Linked DNA regions of Homo sapiens. The protein of the gene in region 1 interacts with the protein of each later gene in a pairwise test. Each region holds a gene or a part of one and is shown in the gene's direction. Other genes may lie near its edges.

Region 1 (10,245 bases):
CAGCGGTTTGGGCTTAGCTCAAGTCACACTTCCCTTCTCTCCTCAAATAGCCCTTCTTTGCCTCTGGGATACAGACCAGGACCAAGGGGAAAGAAAGCCTTTTAAAAATAGTCCTGGCCACACTTTTGCAGGTTTCCTTCCCTTGCCTCTGCCTCTCTAGTGCACCATCAGCAAGTTTAACTCCTGGCAGGAAGGATGAAATTTGACAGCAAGAATGTTTCTTAACTTCCTTCCCTTGCCTCTGCCTCTGTAGTGCGCCATCAACAAAGTTTAACTCCTGGCAGGACGGATGAAATTTGACAGCAAAAATGTTTTCTAACTGCAAAGGTGGTTTGGCACTGCAAAGGGTTGATTAAGAATGGGAGAAGAGGTTGGGCGCGGTGGCTCAAGCCTGTAATCCCAGCACTTTGGGAGGCTGAGGCAGGCAGATCACTTGAGGTCAGGAGTTTGAGACCAGCCTGGCCAGCATGGTGAAACCCCGTCTCTACTAAAAATACAAAAAATTAGCAGGGCGTGGTGGCACGCGCCTGTAATTTCAGTTACTCGGGAGGCTGAGGCAGGAGAATAGCTTGAGCCTGGGAAGCAGAGGTTGCATTGAGCTGAGATCACGCCACCGCACTCCAGCCTGGGCAACAGAGCAAGACTCTGTCTCAAAAACAAAAACAAAAAACAAAAAACAAAACAAAACCAGAAAAGTCTACCATCTGTTTGTGAGGGAACTAGTTAAATGTTCGTGGAAACAGGTTACTTCCTGGAGGGAACAACAGCTTCTTTTGGGAAGGGGGCTAAGGAAGAGCGAGGTGAAGAAGAGGAAGGGCAGTTCGTGCTTCCCATAAAGGTTCTGGTGACTCATTTGATTTTGGAAGAAGGCAGGCCCTGGGATGGCAGGAGGAAGGTATCTAGTGGGGAGTTCTGAGATGTTTACAATGCGGCAAATGACTTCAGGTTTTCTTCTGTGCACAAAATGTGCAGCCCATCCTGAGACACGCTCCACGCTTCCCCTACCTGCTCAGTTCAAGGTCCTAAAGCTGAACTTTCTCACTGTGCCAGAGAGAAGCCAGCCCTTTGCACTGGCGAACAATGATTAACCCGCCTCTCCCTCCACCTGTTTTTCTCAACATGTTTTTCTAAAACATAAACTGGGTCACTCACTTAGAAGGTGACAGCAGTTGATCTGGCCAGTTTCCCATGTCCACCATGAAACACTTCCTCCATTGATCACTTGGTAGGGAAAAAAAAAAGCATACAAAAGAAAAGTAATTAAAAACAAAAATAAAACTGTACATTTTGCACTTTGGGCTGTAGCCCTGCTGCTCGGACGAAGCTGTGAACTGGAGCTAGGTTTCGAATCCCATCTATAGTATGTAGAAAACACCCATTCTAGGTCAGGCACAGTGGCTCACACCTATAATCCCAACACTTTGGGAGGCTGACAGAGGAGGACACTTGAGCCCAGGAGTTACAGACCAGCCTGGGCAACAAAGTGAGACCCTGTTTCTACAAAAAATACAAAAAATTCGCCGGGTGTGGTAGCACCGGCCTGTAGTCCCAGGTACTGGAGAGGCTGAGCTGGGAGGATTGCTTGGGACCCAGGAGGTCGAGGCTGCAGTGAGCATTGATGGGAACAGTGCACTCCAGCCTGGGCAACAGAGTGAGACCCATCTCAAAAACAAAACAAAACAAAACAAAACAAAACAAACCTATTGTAGGATGATAACTGAGTAAAGGAAAGGTGGCTCCTCTCTCAACAGAATCCAGAGCCCCCACCCAGAATAGAAGATACAGCTTCAGGTAAAATCAGACTTTCTTTTTGGTAGTAAATGCAATTTTTGGATGAGGTGTGTGGTAAGTTACAGCTCCTTTTCCCTCTTTGCTTTCTCGTCTGCAAATAAACTTGTTCGAGTGAATGAGTCAACCTTGCCCTGGGAGAATGTGCCAGGGCCCTGGGCCCAGCTGCACTTACTCATCAGCAGACCAGACTGTACTTCCTGGCATCTTTCCTTCATGTTCTTCTCAAGATCCAAAGCCTCTGGATTTCTAGTTGTGGGGAAAATGCCTGAGGAGTGGCTTGCTTGGGTACCTACCAAAGAGGAGCCCAAATGATTTTCCATCCTCATTCCTTCCCCAACTCAGCTGGCCATTTCCCTAGAGGGTGTTAACGAATCTTCTCTACCGAGGACAAAATAATAGGGAACTCACTGATATTTCTACAAAGGAAATCAAAATATTTCATCCCAAACTATGGCTCCCAATATAATAAGTACTTTTTTTGTTCGTTTGAGACAGGGTCTCGCTCTGTTGCCCAGCAGGAGTGCAGTGGCACGATCACGACTCACTGTACCTCCCGGGTTCAAGTGATCCTCCCACTTCAGCCTCCCGAGTAGCTGCAATTACAGGTGCCAGCCACCTCACTGGGCTATTTTTTTTTTTTTTTTTGAAATAGGGTCTCTTTCTGTCACCCAGGCTGGAGTGTAATGGTGTGATCTCGGCTCGCTGCAACTTCCACCTCCTGGGTTCGAGGGATTCTCTTGCCTCAGCCTCCTGAGTAGCTGGGATTACAGGCGCCCACCACTACACCTGGCTAATTTTTGTATTTTTAGTAGAGATGGGGTTTCACCATGTTGGTCAGGCTGGTCTTGAACTCTTGACCTTGGGTGATCCACCCACCTCAGCCTCCCAAAATGCTTGGATTACAGGCGTGAGCCACTGCACCTGGCCAATTTTTGTATTTTTTGTAGAGATGGGGTTTCACCATGTTGGCTAGGCTGGTCTCAAACTCCTAAGCTCAAGTGATCCACCAACCTCAGCCTCTCAAAGTGCTGGGTTTACAGGTGTGAGCCATCGCACCAGGCCGTGACTATTTTAAATAAAAAACCCTTGAGAGGTTTTTTCACCCTTGGGAGCCTGGAAGAGATTTTTTCCCCTATCTTTCACCTATAAAGATAGGACTGGCCGGGCATGGTGGCTCATGCTTGTAATCTCAGCACTTTGGGAGGCCGAGGCGGGTGGATCACCTGAGGTCAGGAGTTCGAGACCAGCCTGGCCCAACATGGCAAAACCCCATCTCTACTAAAAATACAAAAATTAATCGGGCCTGGTGGCACATGCCTGTAATCCCAGCTACTTGGGGGGCTGAGGCACAGGAATCGGTGGATCTCAGGAGGCAGAGGTTGCAGTGAGCCAAGATCATCGCATTGCACTCCAGCCTGGGCAACAAGAGTGATACTCCGTCTCAAAAAAAAAAAAAAAAAAGGACTGACACAAAAGAACAATTGTTCTTCTCCTTCCTTTATCCCATTATCCATCACAGAAAAGAAGACCAAAAATGTAACCATAAAAAAGTCTCAACAGACCCTTTTTCAAGACAATGACTGTCTCTGAGGACCATTTAAAATCCAGGGAGAACTATTTACAAGTTAATTTCTGTTCCTCGATCCAATCATTCTCCCTCTGCCCTTCGACAGAATTCCTCTTCTCCTCCTTCCCATAACCTGTTTTTAACAGGATCCAAGCCACCCATTCTTTCTGCAACCTCAAGATGGTGGATGAGCTTCCATACCTCACTGGGAAGTTGGATCTTCATTCTTAAGCCTCCCATGTATACATGTTAAATACATTTGTAATCTTTTTCTCATATTAATTAATCTGCCTTATGTCAGTGACTTTTCAGCGAACTTGTAGGTAGTCACTCACATAAGGATCCTCCAGTTTACATAGTTTTGTAAATGTCAGGTCACCCTGTCCCACTAGACCACCAAGGTCCTGGAGGACACCTGGGATTTAACTTTTTTTTTTTTTTTTTTTTTTGAGACAGTCTCGCTCTGTCACTGAGGCTGGAGTGCAGTGTCAGGATCTCCACTCACTGCAACCTCCACCTCCCGGGTTTAAGTGATTCTCCTGCTTCAGCCTCCCGAGTAGCTGAGACTACAGGTGCCCCTCATCATACCCGGCTAATTTTTATATTTTTAGTAGAGATGGGGTTTTGCTATATTGGCCAGGCTGGTCTTAAACTCCTGACCTCAGGTGATCCACCCTCCTCAGCCTCCCAAAGTGCTGGGATTACAGGCGTGAGCCACCATGCCCAGCCTGGCTTTTAACTTTTAATTCCTCAGAGAGCCAGGCATGGTGCTTTGCTCAGGAAATGTTGGTTGAATTAAACCGGAGCACTTCTTGAAAAGGGAAAATAACAAAGAGTTAGAAGGAGATGGCGGGAACCCCTCTCTGGAGATAGTTCTTTAAATTAGTGGATTCTGCAGGGCACTGTTGCTCATACCTGTAATCCCAGCATTTTGGGAGGCCAAGGCAGGAGGACCACCTGATGCCGGGAGTTTGAGACCAGTCTGGGCAATGTAGAGAGACCCCCATCTCCACAAAAAATAAAAAGTTAGCTGGGTTTGGTGGTGTGCGCCTGTAGGCCCAGCTACCCAGAGACTGATGCAAAACGATCCCTTAAGCCCAGGAGACTGAGGCTGCAGTGAGCTGTGATGGTGCCACCGCACTCCAGCCTGGGTAACAGAGTGAGACCCCGTCTCAAATAAACAGATAAATGAGTGGATTCTCAGCAAAACTTCTAGCCACTCGCCTCATATATCCACAAGACCTTTGAGAATCCACGGTGTCTCGATGCAGTCAGCTTTCTAACAAGCTGGGGCCTCACCTGTTTTCCCACGGATAAAAACGTGCTGGAGGAAGCAGAAAGGGGCTGGCAGGTGGAAAGATGAGGACCAGCTCATCGTCTCATGACTATGAGGTTGCTCTGATCCAGAGGGTCCCCCTGCCTGGTGGCCCACCGCCAGGAAGACTCCCACTGTCCCTGGATGCCCAGAGTGGGATGTCAACTCCATCACTTATCAACTCCTTATCCATAGGGGTATTCTTCCTGAGGCGTCTCAGAAAACAGGGCCCTCCCCATATGCTGACCACATAATAGAACCCCTCCCAACTCAGAGACCCTGGCTGCTAGCTGCCCTGGCATGACCCAGACAGTGGCCTTTGTATATGTTTTTAGACTCACCTTGACTCACCTCTGACCATAGAAACTCTCATCCCAGAGGTCACTGCAATAGTTACTCCACAACAGAGGCTTATCTGGGTAGAGGGAGGCTCCCTACCTATGGCCCAGCAGCCCTGACAGTGCAGATCACATATACCCCACGCCCCAGCACTGCCTGCCACGCATGGGCTTACTTTACACCCACCCACAGTCACCAACACATTACCTGCTCTCCAAGGTTAGGCGTGGCAGGAGAAGTTTGCTTGGACCAGCAGAAACCATGCAGTCAAGGACAACTGGAGTCAGCATGGGCTGGGTGCGAGCCCTTGGTGGGGTGGGGAGGAGACTCCAGGTCATACCTCCTGGAGGATGTTTTAATCATTTCCAGCATGGAATGCTGTCAACTTTTGCCACAGATTCATTAGCTCTGAGTTTCTTTTTTCTGTCCCCAGCTACCCCTTACATGTCAATATGGACTTAATGATGGGAAATTCAGGCAAGTTTTTAAACATTTTATTCCCCCTGGCTCTTATCCTCAAAAAATGCATGAATTTGGAGGCAGTGGCTCATGCCTGTAATCCCAATGCTTTGCTAGGTTGAGGCGGGAGGATCACTTGAAGCCAGGAATTTGAGACCAGCCTGGGCCGCATAGTGAGACCCCGTTTCTACAAAAATAAATAAATAAATAATAAATAATAGTGATATGAAGCATGATTAAATAGCCCTATTTTTTAAAATGCATGAGTTCGTTACCTGATTCATTCCCTGGTTCCTTTCACAGTCCTCCGTGACCCAAGTGTTAGGGTTTTGGTCTCTCTACTATTTGTAGGCTGATATATAGTATACACACACACACACACACACATATACACACACACAGTGTATCTTGAGCTTTCTTTTGTATATCTACACACATATGTATAAGAAAGCTCAAGATATAGAAGCCCTTTTTCAAAAATAACTGAAAGTTTCAAACTCTTTAAGTCTCCAGTTACCATTTTGCTGGTATTCTTATTTGGAACCATACATTCATCATATTGTTGCACAGTAAGACTATACATTCATTATTTTGCTTAAACGTATGAGTTAAAACACTTGGCCAGGCATGGTGGTTCACACCTGTAATCCCAGAGCTTTGGGAAGCCAAGACTGGCAGATCTCTTGAGCTCAGGAATTCAAGACCAGCCTGGGCAACATGGAAAAACCCCATCTCTACAAAAGATAGAAAAATTAGCCAGGCATGGTGGCGTGTGCCTGTGGTCCCAGCTACTCAGGAGGCTGAGGTGGGAGGATCACATTAGCCCAGGAGGTTGAGGCTGCAGTGAGCCGTGATTATGCCACTGCACTCCAGCCTGGGAGACAGAGTGAGACCCTGTTTCAAAAAAAAGAGAGAGAAAATTTAAAAAAGAAAACAACACCAAGGGCTGTAACTTTAAGGTCATTAAATGAATTAATCACTGCATTCAAAAACGATTACTTTCTGGCCCTAAGAGACATGAGGCCAATACCAGGAAGGGGGTTGATCTCCCAAACCAGAGGCAGACCCTAGACTCTAATACAGTTAAGGAAAGACCAGCAAGATGATAGTCCCCAATACAATAGAAGTTACTATATTTTATTTGTTGTTTTTCTTTTGTTTTGTTTTGTTTTGTTTTGTTTTGTTTTAGAGACTGGGGTCTTGCTCGATTGCCCAGGCTGTAGTGCAGCGGTGGGACAATAGCTCACTGCAGACTCCAACTCCTGGGCTCAAGCAATCCTCCTGCCTCAGCCTCCTGAATAGCTGGGACTACAAGGGTACACCATCACACACACCAAAACAATTTTTTAAATTTTTGTGTAGAAACGAGGGTCTTGCTTTGTTGCCCAGGCTGGTCTCCAACTCCTGGCTTCAAGGGATCCTCCCACCTCAGCCTCCCAAATTGCTGGGATTACAGGTGTGAGCCACCACAACCAGCCAGAACTTTACTAATTTTAAAATTAAGAACTTAAAACTTGAATAGCTAGAGCACCAAGATTTTTCTTTGTCCCCAAATAAGTGCAGTTGCAGGCATAGAAAATCTGACATCTTTGCAAGAATCATCGTGGATGTAGACTCTGTCCTGTGTCTCTGGCCTGGTTTCGGGGACCAGGAGGGCAGACCCTTGCACTGCCAAGAAGCATGCCAAAGTTAATCATTGGCCCTGCTGAGTACATGGCCGATCAGGCTGTTTTTGTGTGCCTGTTTTTCTATTTTACGTAAATCACCCTGAACATGTTTGCATCAACCTACTGGTGATGCACCTTTGATCAATACATTTTAGACAAACGTGGTTTTTGAGTCCAAAGATCAGGGCTGGGTTGACCTGAATACTGGATACAGGGCATATAAAACAGGGGCAAGGCACAGACTCATAGCAGAGCAATCACCACCAAGCCTGGAATAACTGCAAGGGCTCTGCTGACATCTTCCTGAGGTGCCAAGGAAATGAGGATGGAGGAAGGAATGAATGTTCTCCATGACTTTGGGATCCAGTCAACACATTACCTCCAGGTGAATTACCAAGACTCCCAGGACTGGTTCATCTTGGTGTCCGTGATCGCAGACCTCAGGAATGCCTTCTACGTCCTCTTCCCCATCTGGTTCCATCTTCAGGAAGCTGTGGGCATTAAACTCCTTTGGGTAGCTGTGATTGGAGACTGGCTCAACCTCGTCTTTAAGTGGTAAGAACCATATAGAGAGGAGATCAGCAAGAAAAGAGGCTGGCATTCGCTCTCGCAATGTCTGTCCATCAGAAGTTGCTTTCCCCAGGCTATTCAGGAAGCCACGGGCTACTCATGCTTCCAACCCCTCTCTCTGACTTTGGATCATCTACATAAAGGGGGAAGACAGAAAAAATCCTACCAGTGAGTTGAAAATACAGGAAAGCCTATTTCATATGGGTTAAAGGGTAGGACAGTTGAATTTCGTGAAAAGTCTGAGTTATATAGGCTTTGAGCAAAGAGTTTTATTAGTATGAAGCAGAAGAGGTAACATAAAGAAAGATGTATGGGGCCAGGCATGGTGGCTCACACCTGTAATCCCAGCACTTTGGGAGGCCGAGGTGGGCGAATCACTCCTGGGTGAACTCAGGAGTTCAAGACCAGCCTGGGCAACATGGCGAAACTCCATCTCTACAAAAACATTACGAAAATTAGCTGGGCGTGTTGGTGCTGTAGTCCCAGCTACTCAGGAGGCTGAGGTGAGAGGCGGAGGAGGTTGCAGTGAGTCAAGATCATGCCACTGCACTCCAGCCTGGGCAACAGAGTAAGACCCTGTCTCAAAAAAAAAAAAAAGATAGATGATGTATGCTGTATGAAAAAAGGAAACACACAGATGATTCAACAGCCTGTTTTGTGGGGTAATGAAAAGTCACCCTGGGAACTGGGCTCCAGCCCTCGTTCTGCCACCCACCAACTACATGTCCTTGGCAAGTCATATCAATTATCTGAGTTTCTGTTTTATAATCTACAAATAGGTTATCTCTGGCAGCTTAATAATAATCAGGGTTAACATTTATTAAACAGTGTGTGCCAGTCCATGTGCTATGTGCTTTTCTGTGAGGTAGTTACTGCTATTTACAGAAACAGTAGATGCAGAGACCAAGGTGCTGAGTTAAATGATTAGGCCAACAAGGTTAGTACATGCCGAGCCAGGATGGAAGCCCAGGTAGGCAGGCTGGCTTCCGCGGCAATGCTCTTATGAACTATGTTACGTCCAGTGCTGATAAACTGACTCTCTGGGGAGCAGGGGAAAGCCCTGAGTTTAGCATTTGCCAATTTCTATCACGTAAACATTCCCATTCTGGCCACTTTCTTTCTTTCTTTCTTTTGTTTGTTTGTTTGAGATGGAGTCTCGCACTGTTGCCTGGCTGGAGTGCAATGGTGCAATCTCAGCTCACTGCAACCTCTGCCTCTCCGGTTCAAGTGATTCTCCTGCCTCAGCCTCCCAAGTAGCTGGGATTACAGGTGCCCGCCACCATGCCCAGCTAATTTTTTTTGTATTTTTAGTAGAGACATGGTTTCACTATGTTGACTAGGCTGGTCTCGAACTCCTGACCTCATGATCTGCCTGCCTTGGCCTCCCTAAGTGCTAGGATTACAGGCGTGAGCCACTACACCCAGCCGCATGATTCTAAAAAATAAAAAGATGAAGTGTTATTCCAAACATCTGATCTCCATTGAAGAACCATGCAATCTCTCTGGGTTGATAGAGGCCAGAGTTAGTGGCTCTCCCTGATTTCGGTGAGAAATCACTATTCCACCATCACGGGATAAAAGGCATCCTGACTGGCGGTTGACACCTATTTCCACAGTGAAAGATATATCTAGTACTTTTAAAGGGGAAGTGGTTTGTCTGAGATACTCTGTTTCAAAGTAGAGAGGATACAGAACAAGCATCTGAAGCTATATACATCCTTACAGAGAGCAATTCTGATGGAAATGCAGGCCATGTTTCCCTGGGGGGGGCTCGTCCTAGGGGCTGGAGTGCATTCTCTGATGTCAGAGGAAATGCAAGATTCCCTGAGGCCTGAGGGAACCCATGGTATATGCAAGTCCAAGTTTCAAACTGTAGTTCCATATGCATTCTTCCAGGACAAATACTTCTTGAGGTTAAAAAAAAAAAGTCACATAGCTGCCATTTTATGGATTTCAGGATTTTTTTTTTTTTTTTTTTGAGATGGAGTCTTGCTCTGTCACCCAGCCTGTAGTGCAGTGGCATAATCTCGGCTCACGGCAACCTCCGCCTCCCAGGTTCAAGCGATTCTCTTGCCTTAGCCTCCCGAGTAGCTGGGATTACAGTCACGCACCACCACATCTGGCTAATTCTTTATATTTTTTGGTAGAAACGGTGTTTCACCATGTTGGCCAGGCTGGTCTCAAACTCCTGACCTCATGTGATCTGCCTGCCTTGGCCTCCCAAAGTGCTGAGATTACAGGTGTGAGCCACCGCGCCTGCCTGGAGTTCAGAATCTTGGGCTTCATTATTTGTGTTTAAATAGATCATACAGTCAGGCACGGTGGCTCATGCCTGTAATCCCAGCACTTTGGGAGGCTGAGGTGGGAGGATTGCCTGAGTTCAGGAGATGGAGACCAGCCTGGGCAACATGGTGAAACCCCGTCTCTACTAAAAATACAAAAACTAGCTGGATGTGGTGGCACACACCTGTAGTCCCAGCTATTCAGGAGGCTGAGGTGGGAGGATCCCAGGAGGTAGAGGTCACAATGAGCCGAGA
Region 2 (10,145 bases), on another chromosome or scaffold:
AAGAGAGCTCCAGTGGCCAAAGCTGGGACAATTTGAACAACAAAGTAGTATTAGATTATAACTCAAAGTATAAAACAAATATTTATATGTCCATACTCATATACATAAATGATTAAATAAAAAGGGAGAAAAGACAAATCTCCCATGCAAAAAAAAAATGCCACATAATTTATCTACATATTCCACCAGCAAAAGGAGAAGCAGAAATCCCCACTCTTTAAGTGTGGGCTGCACATAGTGATTTCCATCCAAGGAGGATAGCATAGAACGGGGGAAAATGGTAACTTTACAGTGGAGAAACTTGACAAACACTATCTCATTCAGGTGATAAAGGTCAACATCACCAGTGATAAATCATGTTGATAGTATGAATCCTTGATAGGTAATGTGGTGCAAATTACTAAACCTCTAGTGGCCTCTAAGGGTAGTGATCTACTGTAATGGTCTTTTTCAAATGTTAAATATAATACATGCAAAATGTCTACCACCAGTGCCTGGCCCATAATAGATACTGAAAAACAGTATCCATAATTAAGAATTAAATGTTTGAAAAGTGCTCTAAATTTTTGTTTTCAAAATGATTGACTGAGGTGTCATTGATGTAGTAATACCTCTTAATTATTTTATAGACTTTTACAAATTTATAATGTGGTTCTTTCTATTTAGATCTTTGCATTGTGGAGCTAATATTGAAAGCATTTGTGTACATTATTATTTTGTTATGGCTGCATTTGTTAGTAAAGCCTCATATTATTTCTGCTTCTGTCTTTCTGTCTTGAGTTGGCTCAACATTGCCTCAAAAAGAATCATGCAAGAAAAAAGTACATGCTGGGCTAGACTTCAGAGTACTCTTAAATGCTCTGAGATTTCTGCTTACTACTGCCCTATTAAAGCTGTAAAAAAGAATCGGGATATCCAACTCTTATCTGTTCTTAGGATGTCTCCTCTGTTGTCAATGCATGATTTCAATACCAATTTGCAGGTTTTGACACCAATCCTTGTTAATGAGTATATAGTATTTAATGTTCAGTAGAGATGGTAGATGACACTGACAATATTGCATTATGAAGAAACTGGAGTTAATAGAATGCTTTAAGACATCAAAAGATTAAATGACACAACTGTTTGCTAGATGCAATTTGCCTAGGAGGTTAAAGGCATACTTTTCCTGCTTCTCAAAAAGCAATTAGAGCCAATTTGTGACAACCTGAATATGTAGAAGAAATTGTTTTTGTTTCAAAACTAAAAAACAGGCAACTTGGATATTCCGAATTTTTGCTTGTAGGTTTAGAAATCACTGGCAGTGGCTTGTTTAAAAGCATCTTACGGCCGGGCGCGGTGGCTCACGCCTGTAATCCCAGCACTTTGGGAGGTGGAGGCGGGCGGATCACAAGGTTAGGAGACGGAGACCATCCTGGCTAACATGGCGAAACCCTGTCTCTACTAAAAATAAAAAAATAAAAATAAAAAAAATTAGCCGGGCATGGTGGCAGGCGCCTGTAGTCCCAGCTACTCGGGAGGCTGAGGCAGGAGAATGGCGTGAACTCGGGAGGCGGAGCTTGCAGTGAGCAGAGAGCGCCACTGCACTCCAGCCTCGGTGACAGAGCGAGACTCCGTCTCAAAAAACACACTTGACTTTTGCCTCTTACCTCTTTTTGTCATGCTTTCCTGTGTTAATCAGACAGACTGGACACTGCTGCTGAGGAATCAAACCTTTTGCAGTAACAGTCACAGATGCATCCCTTACGATAGCTTGCTTTGTTTTAATTTCTGATAGCCAAAGAACCAGGCATCTCAGATCACCCTGTCCCAGGTTTCCTCTGTAACAACTGATATGAATAGGATGTTTTTAAGACATGGAATCTGTATCAAATTAGGTGCTTTTTTTTTTTAAGCTAGCTGTTTCTATAAGCATTCTCTTTTCCAACTATATAACTCCTTAATTTCCGTAAGTCTCTTAAATAGTATACCTTATTCGCTTTGTTGCTTCCCTTCCTAGGAAATTAACTTTGACTCATGCCCAAGATGTATTTAAGAAAGTGAAGGAGGCCAGGTGTGGTGGCTCATTCCTGCAATCCCAGCACTTTGGGAGGTCAAAGCCTGAGGATCTTTGAGGCCAGGAGTCCAGAGACTAGTCTGGCAACATAGTGAGAACACATCTCTACAACAAATTTAAAAAAAGGAAAAGAAAAAAGGTGAAGGAAAAGGCATAGCTCACAATTTTGTCCTAAACTTTTCTGTAGCATTCTAGTGGAAGTAACAATTGTCATACACTTCAACATTCCAGTGGCAGAAGTGATGTTCCTATTAATTGGAAGACAAGAGAACACACAATGGCCAACTTTTAAATAATTTAATCTTTCAACACCAAGGATTTTGTTTTTAAATAGTTTTAATTAGGTCTTTTCCTTTTAGTGTCTTTTAGGCAATGATTCACCCATTCATTTATTCACTTAAGAAATATTTATTGAGCATCTACTCTGTGCCATCTACTATTCTAGTATTTTAGGTACTAAGGAAACATTGAACAAAATGAAAAAAAAAAAATCCCCGATCTTGTGGAGCTTACATTCTAGCGGAGGGAAGGCAATAGAAAATAAAAATAGAAAATGACGATGTTAGAAGGTTAGAAGGTAAGTACTATGAAAAAAACAGAAGCAAGGAAGGGAGGATTCTGGGGAAGGGGCAATATTTTAAATGAGATGATTAGGGTAGGCTTCTTTGAAAAAAGATGACTTTTAAGCAAAGATTGGACAGAAGTGGAAGATCTAGCCATGCAGGTATTTGGTGGAAAGATCTTTGCAGATAGAAACTATACACAGTGTAAGGGCCTCAGGGCAAGAAGATGCCTTGGTGTTACAGAAGCAGGGAGCAGGTCTGTGTAACTGGAACAAAGTGCTTAGCAGAAATGAGGTCAGAGGGGTGGAGGTGAGGTAGGACTTGGGAGGCCAGCTAGCATAGGATTTTTAGGTTGCAGAAAAGACTCAGGCTGAGAAAATTAGGAAGCCATTGGAAGAGCGACTACTTTTGGTTTCCTTGTAAGTCTGTAGACAAACTTCTGAAAGTTAAAGGCATATTCATGTCATATCACAGATTGGTTCAATACTCAAGTGTCAACACTTAATGCCTTGCTTCTAGAAAAGATAAAAAGATGTAGTAAATAAAACTGAATACTCAAGCCAGACAACTACATTGCTGTTTTAATTTACTAGCTGGTATCTTAAATATTAATGAACCTCCTTCTCTGTTTTCTTATTTACAGGTTGGAACACTATCTTTTTCCAGGTTCCTTGTTGTCTCTAGTATCTCTTGGTATCCTTTGATACCTCAGTCCAGGTAGGATTTCCATGCTCATTTTCTATTTGTGGCTTCATCTGTCAATACCAGTAACACATTTTATTGTATTGCAGAGGTCAGAATTTTGCTGGTCCAGCAATGTGGAAATGATGTACAAAATGCAGATTAAAACAACAAGAAAAACTACTTTGCTTCAATTAGTTGAATTGAGCAAAATCAGTTTTTCTTGAATTTTTTGCATGACTGCTTAAATGAACCGTTTTGTTTCCTTGACACGATAGAGATAATACAAGGTTTGCAATGCCCTTATTGTTTTGAGACTGTAAGAGTAATACATTAAGTAAATTTCATTTAGCACAACAGTACTATTGTTAAATGGAGGGAAAAGATTCTGGTAAAAGGGAAGAAACTCCTGGCTTTAGTTTTCTAAAATGCTTTTGTACCTCTTGTAAGAATGACATGGAGGTGTTTTTAATGTCAAGTCTGAAAATTTGCTTTTCAATTTACTTGGAAACTGGTTTCTAATACAAAACAGGGTAGCACACTTTCCCAGCATGTTCAGGTAAACTACTTTCATCACAATTCAGGTAGAAGTGACTGCCTTTAATTCCGTACATCGCAAACCATCTAGTGGTAGATCTAGAATGGCGTCAGTCTCAGGGACTTCTATGCACATTGAGTTCCAGAGTTCAATTCCATTTAAGTTGGGACTATTTACAATGACATTTGCTGAAATTTGCTCACCTTGATATACAAGCATATTGTATTAAGCAGCTAGTAAACCTGTGGAGATAGCAGGTAAAACGTAAAGCCTGTTTTACGTTTTTTTAGAGGTGCATTACTTGTAGCATAACTAAACCTTCATTGTTAGGCAGGTGCTGGCCAATTACATCAGCAAGTCCTAACTCCGCTAGGATCGGGGTAAAGCCGATAAGCCGCATCATATCTACAACCTGTCTCGGACCCCTGTAAAGAACTCACTGAGGATTGGTAGGGACAAAGGGAAGTTTCTGTCAAAGTTTAGGAGAAAAGGGCCGCGCAGGGAGCTGTTTCAAATAACACTTAAATCCCAGGAGAAGAAAGCCGAACCCCAACTCTTCGGTCGCCGCGGGGCCAGGGAGACGCGAGAGGGAAGTTTTTCTAAAGGAAATCTGCCGCCTTGTCCCCAAGACCAGCGAGGTCCGCAGCGCCATCAGTCAAGTGTCGGCCTCTGGCATTTTCTCCTCTCCCCAGGGCGGGCCAACGCTAGTGGGCGGTGGATGATGCGCCGGCCCCAAGGGCGCGCACGTCCATTCCCGGAAGGCTCGGGCGCTGGGGCCCCTCTGCACTCCCAGCGGTCCCAAGTTGGCCCAGGCGCCCGGTCCCGGGGTCCTACAAGTCAGCGCCAAGCCGACTGCCGACAGCCTACCTCCGCTTCTCCGCGCGCCGGCGCTATGGAGACGGTCACGAGACGCCAGCAGCCCCTGCGCCCGCCAATGGGAACGCACGTTGCAGCGAGACGCGGACGTCGCTCTTCCAAGATGGCGGCGCGTCCGTCGCGAGCGACCGGGCCGAGGGGAGGCCAGCGAAGCCGAGTAAAACCGCCGCCCGGGAGAAGACTGAAGGAGCAGTTGCCGCCGTTGGCGGCGGCCCGAGCAGTTTTCGCTGCTGCTACGGCTGTTGCCATGAGGCGAGGCTAGGGAGGACCTCACTTCCCCGGGGTGTAATAATGTTAACTGAGGTAAGCGGCGACGGTGGCCAGTGTTTACCTGTGAAATGGGGAAGGGGCCGGCGCCAGCCCGTCAGAGAACATCATCTGTACGGAAGGTGGGCCTGACCCTTCGCCGTGGGCTCCAGGGCCCGAGGAGCAGCGGGGATCCTACAAGTGCCCTCAGAGTAGGAGCTGTGCTGACTCAACAGAGTCCCACCACCTCCGGCTGCCAGTGCCTCGCCTTTCGCAGTTGCCACTTGCCACTCGCCCCTGGCACTGGTCTCCCTCCTGCTGTCACTCCCTTCTAACTCATCGCTCCCTTCTTCGTGTCCCCTTACACGCTACTCTGTGGCAGCGTTGGCCTTTCCACGTTACTGCTGGTTCTTGTGATCCTATGGTTTGCCCTAGGTCTCCTTTCTCTGGTCCCTGGGCTCCAGGGCCCTCCGCCTCCGAGCTCGGTCAGCACCCTGGGGTTGTTGCTCGGCCCGACCGGTTTGTTTCCCACCCTCTACTTTGACTGCTTCATGAAGTGGACTTTTTTATCTCAAGCTGCACATGTATGGCTCAGTTGGGTCATCCCCCTCCCCCACATCCATCACCTTTTCGGTTAAATCGTGGTCATCACAAAGTTCAGTTTAGCATCTGCCACCTTGATTTGCGTGTGGCCCCCTTGTTACTCCCTATGGAATAGTTTTTTTCTTTGGACCTGAAATGGAAGTAGGGCAACTATGACGAACCAATCAATTTCCCTTTTCTAGTGCCTAATGGGCATTGCAAAAAGCCGACTTTTTGAAGAAGTAGAGTTTGCCTTTACTAGCAACACTTTAAGGGGAAGAACTAAATCGGTGCAACTAGGTACTTGACCCAGGTTAGCCCAGTTATGTGTTGTAGTATCTGCAGGTGTAGGTGTCACTGAACATAAAATACTGAACCTTGTGATTTGATGAAATACCTTTTTCGAAGCCTTTCACTTTAAGTACTGTGAGGATCCTGACGTGAGGAACTGACCGGATTGGGCATTTTTATGGGCTGAACTGAATAGGAAACAGTTTTAGTGGGCAATGGGAAGTATTCCTACATGGGCCAAAAAGGAAATACAAACATTTGTAGGTGAGTGGCTTTTATTTTGTGAAAAGTGATGGTAAAGCACGTACTTGCCTGAAATTTCAGGTCCTTGGAACGTGACTAACTTTGAGGAACTTTATACTTTGCTGTTTGTACTTAATCTAAGCACAGAGCCTGGCATATGATAAATACTTACTGGTTGATTGTAACTTCTACAGTACGTATTTTTAGTTGTTTGAAGTTCATTTTATATTTCTAAATTCTACAGATTTTTCATTCTTGGAGTTAATTGAGATTATGGTTATAGCATAAGTTTGTGTTGTGATTAGCAGTAATAGATTAGAAAAAAGAGTTATAAGTAGCAGAAGTTTCATTTTTACCTTAAGTGTGATATTTTAGTGGGAACAGTTAGCCTTATAATAAGTGTTTAGTGTTGTCTCTAATGTGTAATATTATATGATATGATCTTTTCCTTAAACTTAGCTTATGTTAACATGTTTCAGAGTTTTAATACTTTCAAATGAACTACTTGTGTGTCTGCCAGTAAAATGATTTGGAAAGATGGAGCTTTCTCAGCTTCTGTATTTTAATGCAATTTTGCGTTTTAGGGAAATATTTTAAACAGTAAATCAATGATAATATTAAGTAAACTGTACTTTAGTACTTTTTGTGTGAACACTGCACAACTTATAAGTGGCAGAAGCAGGATTCCAACCTTGGCAGTTGCCACCTAGCCCATTCTGTTAACTTTTCTAGATTGCCTCGCCAAAGTAAGACCCAGATTAAATTGTACTAAAGTCTTCCCTATAGTTTTCAGTAGTCGTTTATAGATTAGGAAACTGAAGCCAGAGACTCTTGTCCAAGGTCAATTATTAAATATTAGTGACAGTCGAAACTGGAATCTCATCTCCTAACTCTCAGTAGAGAGCTCTGACCGTTTTGCTCAGCTGCCTCTCAAGTAGTTTTCAGCTCTCTTGATAGATTTTAAAACATGCTATTGTACTTCCTTGTCTGAATATTGTCAGTAAACTGAAAATGATTATTACTTAAAAAAGACTTTCTGCTTTACCTTAGCTTTTTTTCCTTTTCATTTTTTAAACAAGGCTTCTAAGCCTCGTAAACTAGTCCTATTTTGAGATATTTTAGATATAAAATTTCACTCAATATTGGCTACTACAAAATTAGTGTGAGACTTCCTTTTTATTGCTTCTGCTAGACATTGCTGACTTAGATCAGCAGCTTTTAGGAGATGTGATTTAATTCATGTTAGGTCTCAAAATGTGTAGTGATGAGCTGTGCTATGAAAGATTCTCCTGTCTTTATATTAGTCATGCTCAGCAAGCATTTACTGTGCTCAGAAAGTGGTGAATTGTAGTATGTGCCTGGATTCTTTACATCTCAACACTGAGGTAGGTGATATCCCCATTAACCAATGATAAAACAGGTTGAGAAAGTTGAAAGAGCTTACTTAGAGTTGTATAAAGAATGGAGGAGACAGAAATCATATTTAGGTCCTCTTATTCCACATTGTGTGCTTTTTATGACTCAGTGTGGAATGCATCATTAATTTTCTTTGTAGCTGATAAAATCAGCATACTATTTTTATTTTTTTTTAACCAAGGTGAGGATACTAAGTACATAGATACATAATGAGAATAGTAATGATAAGTGTTCATATGAAACTTTTCAGTTTTGCGTTTTGTGAAAATATATCTTTTTTTTTTTTTTTTTTTTTGAGACGGAGTCTTGCCCTGTTGCCCAGGCTGGAGTGCAGTGGCGCGATCTTGGCTCACTGCAACCTCCGCCTTCCAGGTTCAAACTATTCTCGTGCTTCAGCCTCCCAAGCAGCTGGGATTACAGGCGTGAGCCACTGCACCGGGCCAAAAATATATCTCTAATTGAAACCTTTTCAGAAATGAGAAGCCACACAAGTGATCAATTAAGGACCATTTTATATTAAGCTAAAATGGAATATCACTCAGTTGAGCAAACTAATATGTACATTGAACTTTGAGCCTATGAAATATAGATTAATGTAAATTGAAAGTATAGCTCCCATATAGTTCTCGATGTAAACTTTTTGGCTTCAATTTATATTATTTTATCTTAAATACAATGGAATTATTTAGAAAACTTGCTAGTCATATTTATGTATGTATTTTTTTTTTTTTTGCATTTTACATACAGGGATGAGCTGTATGTAACGTCTAGCTAGTTTTTTTTTTTTTATTTTATTTTATTTTTTTTAATGTTAGTTTTTTTCCCCTTCTGTTGTCCTTGCTCCTGTTAGGACTTCCTGCTTCTAATGTGACTCCTGCTATACTTGGCAAAAAATTTGTCATAGTGTACATGAAAGTTACTTGTTTAATATTCACTCCTCACTCTCCCTCTATCCCTTCTTTTTTTTTCTTTTTTTTTTTCTTTTCCCCTAACAGTAAACTTCATATATCGAAATTAGAGCATGGGATGTTTGTTTACCTGAGAATTTGTTTTAATTAATCCGAGTTTTCACAACATTAGAAGATAATGAAATATTTATCAGTGAATTTTTATCAAACACACTTTTAAACTTTTCTTGATACCAGGAGCAATTAGGATTATAATTCTGAGCATTTATTATTACAGAAAACTAAAGGTAAGAAATGTGGGAAAATGTGCTGAATACATTCCAGTGTTGTGGCATACTTTGGAGGTTGTTTTTGCATGGAAACCAGTTATCAACGTGTTGTCACTTGTCCTGTGTTTTAAAAAATAATAAACAGTGTAGCTATTTAAAGCTATTAGTTGTTTGAGTTGTCTGTAAATATGAATCATTAAGTGACTATTAAATAAAAATAGTTTCTATTTGTGTTGTTACTTCCATCCAGATTTGTTGCTTTTTCAATATTAACACTGATTCTCAGAGTTAACAGATCTGATATAAATGGGAAAAGGCAAAAAATGCAGCACTTTGAGAAGTTCCAGGTTAATAGTTGTTAAGTAAAAGGTTTTGTAGTTGAAATAAATTTGGAGGATATTTGCCTAAAGAAAGTTAATAGGTTTCTTCTCTGGATGACTTAACATAGTTAGTTTTTGATAGGTGATTTATTTTCAAAGAAGATGATAGAATTTACAGCATATTGCAGAGTCATTTAACCATGGAGGTGAATACACTTTCTTGTATTTCACTTAGGGAAATCCTGGAGTGATGAGTTACGTATCAAGAAAGGCTCCCTGAACATCCAGGGGTCCTTTTGAACACACACATGCACATACATCATACATCCACGCTCACACACAGTTGTCTTGCCCATAAGTGCTTAGTAAAATATTATGACTTGGTTTTGTTGATTAATATATTTGTAATAGAAATACTCTTGGGGCACATTAATCTTTAAGCTATATAAGCTATTTCTTCAATTATTAATGACACTGCAAGAGCTACTAACCAAAGCAAGAAGACCATAGGTCCACTGGCATTCAGAGGTGTCAAGAGGTAGGAAAGGGATTTTATAACGGGAGTGGAAGGACATCAGTATCTAAAATGAGTTTGGCTTGCCACTCTACACACAGCCTTACTTGGCATCTTTTGACAAACCAAGAGGAATATTGATAAACATTCTTAAAGAATTTTTTCTTTTTAAATATTATTTTAATTGACAGTCATTTTTATGCATTTATGGGGTACAGGGTGATATTTTGAAATGTGTGTACAATGTGGAATGATTAAGTGCAGCTGAATAACATATCACCTTGATTATTTTCTATGGTGAGACAATTGAAATTTAGTTATTTAAAAAATAAAATACATGATTGTTGACAGTTGTTTAATTGATCTAAAAATTTCTTCCTTCTATCTATCTGAAACTTTGTACTCTGAGCAGTATATCCCCATTGCTCCCTCTTCTCCAGGCTCTGGTATCTGTCATTCTGCTGTCTACTTCTGTGAGTTTGACTTCTTAAATTTCACATATAAGTGAGATCGTGTGGTATTTGTCTTCCCATGCTTGGCTTTTTTCAGTTAGCATGATGTTCTCCATGTTCGTTCATGTTGTAGCAAGTGACAGAATTTCCTTCTCTTTTAAGCCCAATTAGTATTCCATTGTATCTACCA
Region 3 (10,189 bases), on another chromosome or scaffold:
ACCCCATCTCTACTAAAAATACAAAAATTAGCCGGGCGTGGTGGCGGGCGCCTGTAGTCCCAGCTACTCGGGAGGCTGAGGCAGGAGAATGGCGTGAACCCGGGAGGCGGAGCTTTCAGTGAGCAGAGATTGTGCCACTGCACTCCAGCCTGGGAGACAGCGAGACTCTATCTCAGAAAAATAAAATAAAATAAAATAAAATACTAAGTTGTCCAACATAGTTCTCATTTTCCTGTGTTTACTACTGTCGTACTTTGTTTAAATATCAGGCTTCAAATTATTTCAATAAATGGATCTCCTTTTGAGGGCCACTGTTTTGGGGGCTCCTTAAATGCAGGCACTCTGCCTACTGGGTGACGCAGCAGTGCCCAGTACCCTCAGTACAGGAGCTGGGGTCTCTGTGTTTTCGGGGAGGACCTTGCAAATTCTCGAGTGGCAGCTTCCATGGGTGGCCACTGTTGGAGGGGACTCCTCATTCACCCACCCTTTGTTTACTGGTGCCTGCCTTTCCCCACCCACACAGAGGGCCGGGCCTGCGCGGTGGTCTTTGACTGCAAGTTCATTGAGACATCAGCGGCATTGCACCACAATGTCCAGGCGCTGTTTGAAGGTGTCGTGCGCCAGATACGCCTGCGCAGGGACAGCAAAGAAGCCAACGCACGACGGCAAGCAGGCACCCGGAGGCGAGAGAGCCTTGGCAAAAAGGCGAAGCGCTTCTTGGGCCGCATCGTAGCTCGTAACAGCCGCAAGATGGCCTTTCGCGCCAAATCCAAGTCCTGCCACGACCTCTCGGTTCTCTAGGTCCCACCCGCTCCCACTATGGTGGGAGACGAACGGAAGGGTTGGTGGGCTGGCCCAGCCAACTGCCCCGGGTGCCTCAGAGCAGGCTCAGACTCTGGGTCCCTCGGAGCTGCCAGCCGGGCACCCCCAACCTCATGGTCATGGACAGATAGACAGTGCTGCCCTGCGAAGTGGCTCTCAGGGGCCAGTGAGGGCTGGGCCCACAGAGATGCATGCGCAGGCTCATATGCGTCCCAAGCAGCCGCAGCGCAGCCGCCGGGCAGGCCTGCGTGCCGGGAGAGGACTCTGCCTTTTTTCACAGCCCGGGTGTGCCTGCCCTGGAGGGAGGCTCTTCAGTGCGGTAGCTATTTGTTTACATGCAGATTTTTGTAATAAAGGCTATTTCCTGATAGTCATGGCTGTTGACTCTCTTTCCTCCTATCTGGGCGCTTCAGGAGCTGGAAGGATTTCTGAAGTTGAGGGATGGGGGCTCACTGCCCCACCCTAGTGTGTGGCCATGATGTGTTAATGTGAGGGTCCAGATTTAGCCAGCTGGGATGGGCATCGGGTCTGGTTAGAGGTTCAAGGAGCAGGAGACACAAACCCCTCCCAGTCCCTGTTATCCAGATTCTTCTCTTTCTGCACTGGGGCCTGGCGTTGCCCAACTGATTGAGGGTTCAATCACTTCACTGTCCATAAAGGGAAACAGGCTGCTCAGGGGAGCACATTCTGCCCTGGGTCTCACAACCAGGCAGGAACCCTGGGTCTCACAACCAGGCAGGAACCCTGGGTCTCACAACCAGACAGGATCTGGCTCCACAGCTGGTATTTCTGCCCTGTTCCCTCTTGAGGGGCTGGAATCAGCTGAGGTTGGGGATAGAGACCTCCGAGGGGTGGTTTGTGAAGGCACACACAGCTCCACATGGCTCCTCCACCACTTCACTGGGGTTGAGCTACGGAGGAGGCACTCACTGTTCTCTCTACCATGAGTATCCAGGCCAGAACATTCCATGCTCAGCATTGGCTAATTCAGTTTTGGTGGGAACAGCTGCCGGGAGCCCGCCCTGCCTGGAATGAGAGGTCTTGCATTTGTATAGGAAGGTGTACTCGTGCTTATGTTTAGGGATGCACCTGTCTCCCTGCCCACCCATGCCCATGGCTCCCTCACCCTCGGCACAAGTGCTGCTAAGAGTTTTTATCTACATGGTCTCAGGAAAAACCATCCCCATCTGGTGCTGGGTGGGAAGTGGCTGAGTGGGGACTGGTATACAGGTCTGCCCATCTCCAAAGCCTGGAGGCAGCCTGGGGCGAGGTGGGGGGCAGTTTCTAAGAAGGTTCTGGGCCAAGGTCCATACATTCCTTCCTTAGTTCAATTTATTCAATTTATTCATTCCCTCACCCTCGGCACAAGTGCTGCTAAGAGTTTTTATCTACATGGTCTCAGGAAAAACCATCCCCATCTGGTGCTGGGTGGGAAGTGGCTGAGTGGGGACTGGTATACAGGTCTGCCCATCTCCAAAGCCTGGAGGCAGCCTGGGGCAAGGTGGGGGGCAGTTTCTAAGAAGGTTCTGGGCCAAGGTCCATACATTCCTTCCTTAGTTCAATTTATTCAATTTATTCATTCCACAGACTCCAGGGAGCCCTGGCAACCTGGTTAGAATCCTGATTGCAGCTTATTGAATGGCAGGAGGAGGCTTGAGGGCTGCCCCTCCATGTACAGGGGAGCGCTGAGATTCACCCACGTGCTCCCCAGGGCAGAGGTAACTGCTCAGAGCTGTTGCTGCTCTGCCCCTCCTCCCCACATACTTCAAGGAATGCAGAAGGCATGGTATTTTCAGATCAAGTGAGGGTCCCCAGGCCTTCCTGGCTCTGTCACTTATTGACTGTGTGACCCTAGGCAAACCACTCAGCTTCTCTGTGCCCCAGCATGTGCCCAATGCCCCTTCAGAACGCAGTATGTGGCATAATGAAGGTATGTGCTCAGAGCAGTGCTGGGCACAGAGCAGGAGCTTAACACGTGTGAAACCCCCTTCAACCTCCCCACACTACACTGCTCCAGGCTGGGTGCCAGAGTGACCCTGAAGCAGGCACTCAGCTTGTGACAAGGCTGGGGGCAGCTGGGGGTAGCTTCTGGCCTGAGAGAGACTAATCAGATGTACAGTGGGAAGGACTTCGTGGGGACCATGGGAAGCTCCAAGGCTGGAGAGGGACTGGAGACCTTCTTCCCACCCTCTCCCCTCATTCCAGACTCCCAGGCCCCAGAAGCATCTCCTGGCTCTGCTTGGCTGCCCTCATTGCGGGGAGAGCCCCTGTTCAGCCCTGCAACTCCCTCAAGGTCACCTGAGCCAGTTTAATCTTCTTAGGGGCATGAGACTGCCCACTGTCTCAGCCCTGTCACTGTTGAGTGGCCAGTGTAAGGACTTCGGGAGCTCATAGGCTGCTGCACTCCCCCACCACAGGTCCCCCTGGGGGGGGTGGTCTGGAGCCCCAATACCCACTTCCACTCATGTACTGCTCACCCATCCTTTGCAACCTCCAGCTCCTTGTCTTAGTTCCACAAGCCATGCGGAGCTGCCAGGGCAGAATGAGAGCCAGGTCATTCCTGAGTCCCTGAGTTCTGCTCTCAAAGGGCTCCCAATCTAATGGAAGAGGCAGACAATGACAAGCTGGTGTCCTCTGTGTATTAATAGAGATAGCACATGGCATGGTGTGAGGGGGAGGGGCATTCCCAGAGGAGGCTCCTGAACAAGCCTGGGAACATAGGGGAAGTTTCCTGGAAAAAGGAATATTTGAGCTGAGCACTGAAGCATGCATGAGCAGGTGCTTACCACACAGATGAATGAGTGGGAAGGGTGTTCCATGCAAAAGGAACAGAGTGTGAAAAGGTGTGGCTGCAGACACTGGAGCCTGGGAGATAAGTCAGACCAAGTCTGGAGCCACAGAAAAAGTAACGTCCAGAACCAGAGGGCCAAGGAATACCTCCTGGGCTGTGCTGGGGTCGAGGGAGTGCCAGGCCAACCATCTCCCCACCTCCTGGAGCTGGCAGTCACGGATGCTGAGCAGCTCCTGGCTTTCCAAAGTCAATGAGTAACTTGGGGGGCTGGGCGGGGCCAGGCCTGCTGCTGTGGGCCCAGTGGCCTTTTCCACTCCTGAGCAAGCGTGGCTGAACCCTCCTACCTGCTCAAGTGCCCTGCCTTGCCCCACCCAGCCCAGCCTGGCCAGAGCCCCCTGGAGAAGGAGCTCTCTTCTTGCTTGGCAGCTGGACCAAGGGAGCCAGTCTTGGGCGCTGGAGGGTGAGGGGCTGGGAGTGGAGGGGAGGGCATGGCTGAGGCTGAGGTTGGTGGTGGGGAAAGGAGAAACACTGCCCTGTCCTCGCCATCTGGGAAAGAATTCCCAGGGCCTCATCTTAGAGGGGTTGTCGATTTGTCGCTGCTCTGCCTGCCCAGCTCCATGACAAGGGCTGGAAAATGATGAGACAAGGGCCGGGCTCCTGCTCCGGGGGTTCTCCTTGTCTAGAAGGTGGCAGTGGGAGGCAGGACAGTCCCAGAGGCCCTGAGCTAGGAGGACTCCTCCTGTGGTCAAGTCCTCTGTGACCTTGGCCAGACCCCAGCATTCAGGCCTTGCCTGCAACAAGAGGTGACTTCAGGAAGTGACCCTCCAAGTCTTCAGGAACTTTCCAGCTTCAAACTTTTGTGATTTGGGGGATTGCTAGAAAATTACCACTTTGGGATCTGCGGCCTGGGGAGGCTATGGTGAGAAGGAGCTGGAGGTCTGGAGGTGAAATTCTGATAGAGTGCTTGATGGACCAAGAGCCTAGAAGCAGGGTGGCTGGGCCTGGGGGCCTTGGTGGGCCTGGCCGAGGAGCAGGGCACTACCCTGCAGGAGATGGAGAGCCTCAGCTCCTTTGGAGGGGAGGAAGAGAAGACTAGTCTGCAGTACGATCCCACTAGTTGTGTGTGTGGGATGGAAAGCCCCTCCCTACCCACCTGGGCTGGATCCTCACTGCCGTGTCCCTCAGGCCTGTCCTGACCATGGTCCCTGCCTGGCTGTGGCTGCTTTGTGTCTCCGTCCCCCAGGTGAGCTAGGCCCTGCCCCCTCTCCTTCAGGTCTTGGCTTTGGGGGTTGACACCCTTGCCCCCAACTCCACCTGGACCAATTGCACTGACCGTGAGAACGGTGCAAGGCATGGGAGGGGTCAGAGCTGGGACTATAGAGCCACTGTGGGATGAGGAGGTCAAAGACCAGAGCGCGGGTGGATGGACTAAGGTACAGCCAGGCCCTGGGAAGGGGCGGAAATTCCGCTCTTCTGTTGGGTCTCAGTGCCCACGCAGGAAGATAGAGCCTGGTGACAAGGTGAGAATCCTCCCACAGGCTCTCCCCAAGGCCCAGCCTGCAGAGCTGTCTGTGGAAGTTCCAGAAAACTATGGTGGAAATTTCCCTTTATACCTGACCAAGGTGAGCCGGAGAGCTGGGGTTGGGGCCGGGGGGATCCCTCCCCGCAAAGTCCTGCTTCTCCTTCCTCTGGCACCCTTCCTCTTGCTGTTTCTCTTTGAAATCCTGCTTTCCAGAGAGTATGTACACGTTACACAGGTTGAGTGTCCCCTATCTGAAATGCTTGGGACCAGAAGTGTTTCAGATTTTGGATTTTTTTTTTTCTTCAGATTTTGGAATATTTGCATATATATCATGAGATATCTTGGGGAATGGAACCCAAATCTAGATAGGAAATTCATTTATGTTTCATATACATCTTATACACATAGCCTGAAGGTAACGTTATACATTTTTTTTTCTTTTGAGACGAAGTTTCGCTCTTGTCGCCCAGGCTGGAGTGCAGTAGCATGTTCTCAGCTCACTGCAACTTCCACGTCCTGGGTTCAAGAGATTCTCCTGCCTCAGCCTCCTGAGTAGCTGGGACTACAGGCATGCACCACCACTCCTGGCTAATTTTTTTTTTTTTTTTTTGTATTTTTAGTAGAGACAGGGTTTCGCCATGTTGGCCAGGCTGGTCTTGAACACCTCACCTCAGGTGAGCCGCCCGTCTTGGGCTCCCAAAGTGCTGGGATTACCACTTTGGGATTTGCGAGCTGGGGAGGCTATGGCCAGAAGGAGCTGACAGTACAGAGGTGAAATTCCGACAGAATCCTTGAGTGGCCAAGAGCCCAGTGTGAGTCTGCTCCTGGGCGAATATTTTTAATGATTTTGTGCATGAAACAAAGTTCTGACTATGTGTTGACTGTGACCTGTCACATGAGGTCAGATGCGGCATTCTGTACTTGTCACATCATATTGGCGCTCAAAAAGTTTCAGATTTTGAGTATTTCAGATTTCAGATTTTCGGGTTAGAGATGCTCAACCTGCAGTGGGAATGACTAACAGATTTTAATCCTAGTGGAGAGCAGAGCTTTAGATTAAAGAACGAAATCTCGGTGGTGAGGTTTCAAGCTTCAGAAAGAAGGGCAGAGAGTTTTGGGGAGCATCAGGTCCAGGGAAAAGAGTTCTGGCTCTGAGTCTCAGTCCTGATGCTTACTGGCTGTGTGACCTCTGACAGGAGCCAGATGTCTCTGAGACTCAGTTTCCCCACATGTAAAATGAGGCCATCAGGTGGAGGAGGGGCATCTCCCAGGCCTGGCCACCGCTCCCTTCACTTCTGTTCATTTCCATCAGTTGCCGCTGCCCCGTGAGGGGGCTGAAGGCCAGATCGTGCTGTCAGGGGACTCAGGCAAGGCAACTGAGGGCCCATTTGCTATGGATCCAGATTCTGGCTTCCTGCTGGTGACCAGGGCCCTGGACCGAGAGGAGCAGGCAGAGTACCAGCTACAGGTATGGCTGGGCCAGGTGTAGGGGAGAGCAGGCAAGGCAGAGCCAGACGCTGACTCCCCTTCCCTGCCAGGTCACCCTGGAGATGCAGGATGGACATGTCTTGTGGGGTCCACAGCCTGTGCTTGTGCACGTGAAGGATGAGAATGACCAGGTGCCCCATTTCTCTCAAGCCATCTACAGAGCTCGGCTGAGCCGGGGTACCAGGCCTGGTGAGTGACCAGGGCAGCCAATTTACAGTAAGGTCAGGTGGGCCTTGATGGAACAGCAGAGAGCGAAGAGATGGCCAGACAGTTGGCATAGGACAGGGCAGCCATTTCTGTCCCATTTCTTTTTTCTTTTCTTTTCTCTTTTTTCTTTTCTTTTTTTCTTTTTTTTGAGATGGAGACTCACTGTCACCCAGGTTGGAGTGGAGCGCAATGGCGCGATCTCAGCTCACTGCAACCTCCACCTCCTAGGTTTAAGCAATTCTCCTGCTTCAGCCTCCCAAGAAGCTGGGATTACAGGCACCCGCCACCATGCCCGGCTAATTTTTTTTGTATTTTTAAAAGAGACGGGGTTTCGCCTTGTTGGCCAGGCTGGTCTCGAACTCCTGGCCTCAGGTGGTCTGCCTGCCTCAGCCTCCCAAAGTGCTGGAATTACAGGCATGAGCCACTGCACCTGGCCCATCCTGTACCATTTCTGTCCCACCTTGTTCCTCCCTACTCCACTGAGGGTGCCATCCATTCTTGGCTTCAGTTTGCTCATCTGGGAAGTAGGACGAAAAGCCGTGGCTCATCTCCGGAGTCCTGATGTGATAATGGATAGGGAAGAAAGGACAGAGGAGAAATAGGAGAGGCATGGGAGACTCTCCCCACCCTCTCTATCCCTTACAGTTTGCCCTCCCACCGTGAACCAGGCATCCCCTTCCTCTTCCTTGAGGCTTCAGACCGGGATGAGCCAGGCACAGCCAACTCGGATCTTCGATTCCACATCCTGAGCCAGGCTCCAGCCCAGCCTTCCCCAGACATGTTCCAGCTGGAGCCTCGGCTGGGGGCTCTGGCCCTCAGCCCCAAGGGTAAGCCCGAGCGGGGTGTGCTGGGGAGGGAGGGTCAGAGAAAGCTGGAGAAGGTGGTATCTGAACCATAAGACAAGCATGGGTGGGAGCTTGAGAGGTAAAAAGGGAGGGAAGGGCACTCTAGGTGGAGACAGCAACAAGGCAGGGGGCTGTGGAGGCAGGGCCAGGCATGGAGAGCTAGGAAATGGTGTGAATGGAGGGCCTCAGCTCCACACTCCACGGAGACCTGGGCCTAAGGGACAAAGATAGGAACAGTCTAAGGGGTTGTAGCCTAAGATGCTGCTGGGCAACCTTGCGACTGATGGCGGAAGAGACCTGGACCTGGAAGCTCAGACCAGAGGCATGAACTAGGGTTGGAAAGAAAAGTGAATCAGGCATCATCATAGCCAGCCACGCATTCACCCGTCTACCGCCCAACAACCTACACAGTCCATCCAACCTCCCATCACTCATCCAAACACTCTCCTATTCACACACTCAAACTCCCATCCACCTACCAAGTCAACCACCCATTCATCCAACCAACCCATCATCTGCCATCTACCCATCTCCTCATCCTGGTCATCCACCTACCTCTCTAGTCTATCACGCATTCGTTGTGTGGAGAGATATGGAGGTGGCTTTGCAAACTGTCATGTCCTTGTTGGAGGCTCACAACAGTGCTTAAAGTTCCTCTCTTCCCTTGGCCAAGAGAGTGTCCCAATCACCTGCTGTATGCTTGGTTTTGTGTCTGGTATCTTGCTGAGAATGATGCCCTGGCCCCTGCTCCCTGGCTGCCTGCTCAGCTGACCATCCTCCCTGTTCTAGGGAGCACCAGCCTTGACCACGCCCTGGAGAGGACCTACCAGCTGTTGGTACAGGTCAAGGACATGGGTGACCAGGCCTCAGGCCACCAGGCCACTGCCACCGTGGAAGTCTCCATCATAGAGAGCACCTGGGTGTCCCTAGAGCCTATCCACCTGGCAGAGAATCTCAAAGTCCTATACCCGCACCACATGGCCCAGGTGAGTAAGTGGCTGTCAGTGGCTGAAGCAGCCCCATGGATGGTGCAGCCAGGCCCGAGTCTCATGGATATTTGGGGGCTGGGTCTGGAACCCTCATGACCCGTGCTCCTCCCTCCACTCTTCCCATTACTTCCCACTGTGGACTGGGGTGTTCAAGGCCCTGGACGCAGGCCCACAGCCCCTCGCCTGCTCTGCCATCCTCTAGCAGGCGTGACTCTGTGCTCTGACCTCTTGAACTTGCCCAGGGCTTCCTCAGAGAGAACAGCTGCCATCTCTTGCTGCCATGGGGATTGTCACCCCGGGCCAGGAATGTCTCAGGCCTCTTCTAGGAATGCCCTGGGGTCAGGCCCAGGCTGAGAGGGCAGAAAATAAAGTAACATGGTCACTCAAGCACTTTGGGCAGGGTCCAGGCTTGGATCAGGGCAAGGCCACTAACAACATGTGCCCTGAACAGAAGGATCCCACCTGGACTCCAGGCCCAGGGAGGGCAGCACCTTGCCTGGGTCACACAGTTGGGCTCAGGCTCCTCAACGAGAAATCAGATGGGGCGCAAAGGCTGACATGGATTGTTCCTGCCCCTTGGCCCGGGGTGTCCCCCCCAGGTACACTGGAGTGGGGGTGATGTGCACTATCACCTGGAGAGCCATCCCCCGGGACCCTTTGAAGTGAATGCAGAGGGAAACCTCTACGTGACCAGAGAGCTGGACAGAGAAGCCCAGGCTGAGGTGATATGAAGGGGGAGCCAGGGATGCAGGCTGGGGGTGCTTGGTCAGTGTCCAGTTGGCTTTTGGGGGTGTCACAACTACAACAGAGGCTGAGGCAGTGGGAAAGAGCCCCGAAGAGCTGGAGCTGGCCCACCGGAAGGAAACTCAGAGCCAGGCAAGGCTGGAGCTGCCCTTGGTCCTGACCTGAAGCCCCCTACTGCCCACCGCAGTACCTGCTCCAGGTGCGGGCTCAGAATTCCCATGGCGAGGACTATGCGGCCCCTCTGGAGCTGCACGTGCTGGTGATGGATGAGAATGACAACGTGCCTATCTGCCCTCCCCGTGACCCCACAGTCAGCATCCCTGAGCTCAGTCCACCAGGTGAGCTACAGGATGGGAGAGGGACGAAGTCTCTATTAACCACCTGGTCTTGCTCTTCTCTGGGATAAGGACCCAGCCTCAGGCCCCCATGTCAATGTCCCTCCATAACACACACACACACACACACACACACACACACGAGCTCAAATTCAGTTTAGTTTGGCACAAAATAAGGAGTGGGTGGGGTAAGGTCTCCAGGCTGGGCTGTGGTCCTATCCAGGCGGGTGCTGTCTTGGCAGGTACTGAAGTGACTAGACTGTCAGCAGAGGATGCAGATGCCCCCGGCTCCCCCAATTCCCACGTTGTGTATCAGCTCCTGAGCCCTGAGCCTGAGGATGGGGTAGAGGGGAGAGCCTTCCAGGTGGACCCCACTTCAGGCAGTGTGACGCTGGGGGTGCTCCCACTCCGAGCAGGCCAGAACATCCTGCTTCTGGTGCTGGCCA

What was found.
Region 2: the proteins of G6PC1 (region 1) and SNX13 interact in a two-hybrid assay, tested with the Homo sapiens proteins (one large-scale study listed by BioGRID and IntAct).
Region 3: the proteins of G6PC1 (region 1) and CDH16 interact in a two-hybrid assay, tested with the Homo sapiens proteins (one large-scale study listed by BioGRID and IntAct).

Annotation. Positions count from the first base shown.
Region 1 is NC_000017.11:42,893,414-42,903,658, forward strand, and holds the start of G6PC1 (glucose-6-phosphatase catalytic subunit 1), read left to right. Parts: upstream 1-7,385; 5' UTR 7,386-7,463; coding exon 7,464-7,693; intron 7,694-10,245.
Region 2 is NC_000007.14:17,935,156-17,945,300, reverse strand, and holds the start of SNX13 (sorting nexin-13), read left to right. Parts: upstream 1-4,806; 5' UTR 4,807-5,005; coding exon 5,006-5,017; intron 5,018-10,145. UniProt on the Homo sapiens protein: May be involved in several stages of intracellular trafficking. May play a role in endosome homeostasis. Acts as a GAP for Galphas.
Region 3 is NC_000016.10:66,912,688-66,922,876, reverse strand, and holds the start of CDH16 (cadherin-16 isoform 1 precursor), read left to right. Parts: upstream 1-3,991; 5' UTR 3,992-4,073; intron 4,074-4,798; 5' UTR 4,799-4,811; coding exon 4,812-4,856; intron 4,857-5,151; coding exon 5,152-5,235; intron 5,236-6,447; coding exon 6,448-6,603; intron 6,604-6,673; coding exon 6,674-6,812; intron 6,813-7,475; exon of another isoform or gene 7,476-7,498; coding exon 7,499-7,657; intron 7,658-8,464; coding exon 8,465-8,661; intron 8,662-9,263; coding exon 9,264-9,386; intron 9,387-9,595; coding exon 9,596-9,746; intron 9,747-9,985; coding exon 9,986-10,189. Other genes in the region: RRAD (GTP-binding protein RAD), read left to right, coding at 524-801. UniProt on the Homo sapiens protein: Cadherins are calcium-dependent cell adhesion proteins. They preferentially interact with themselves in a homophilic manner in connecting cells; cadherins may thus contribute to the sorting of heterogeneous cell types.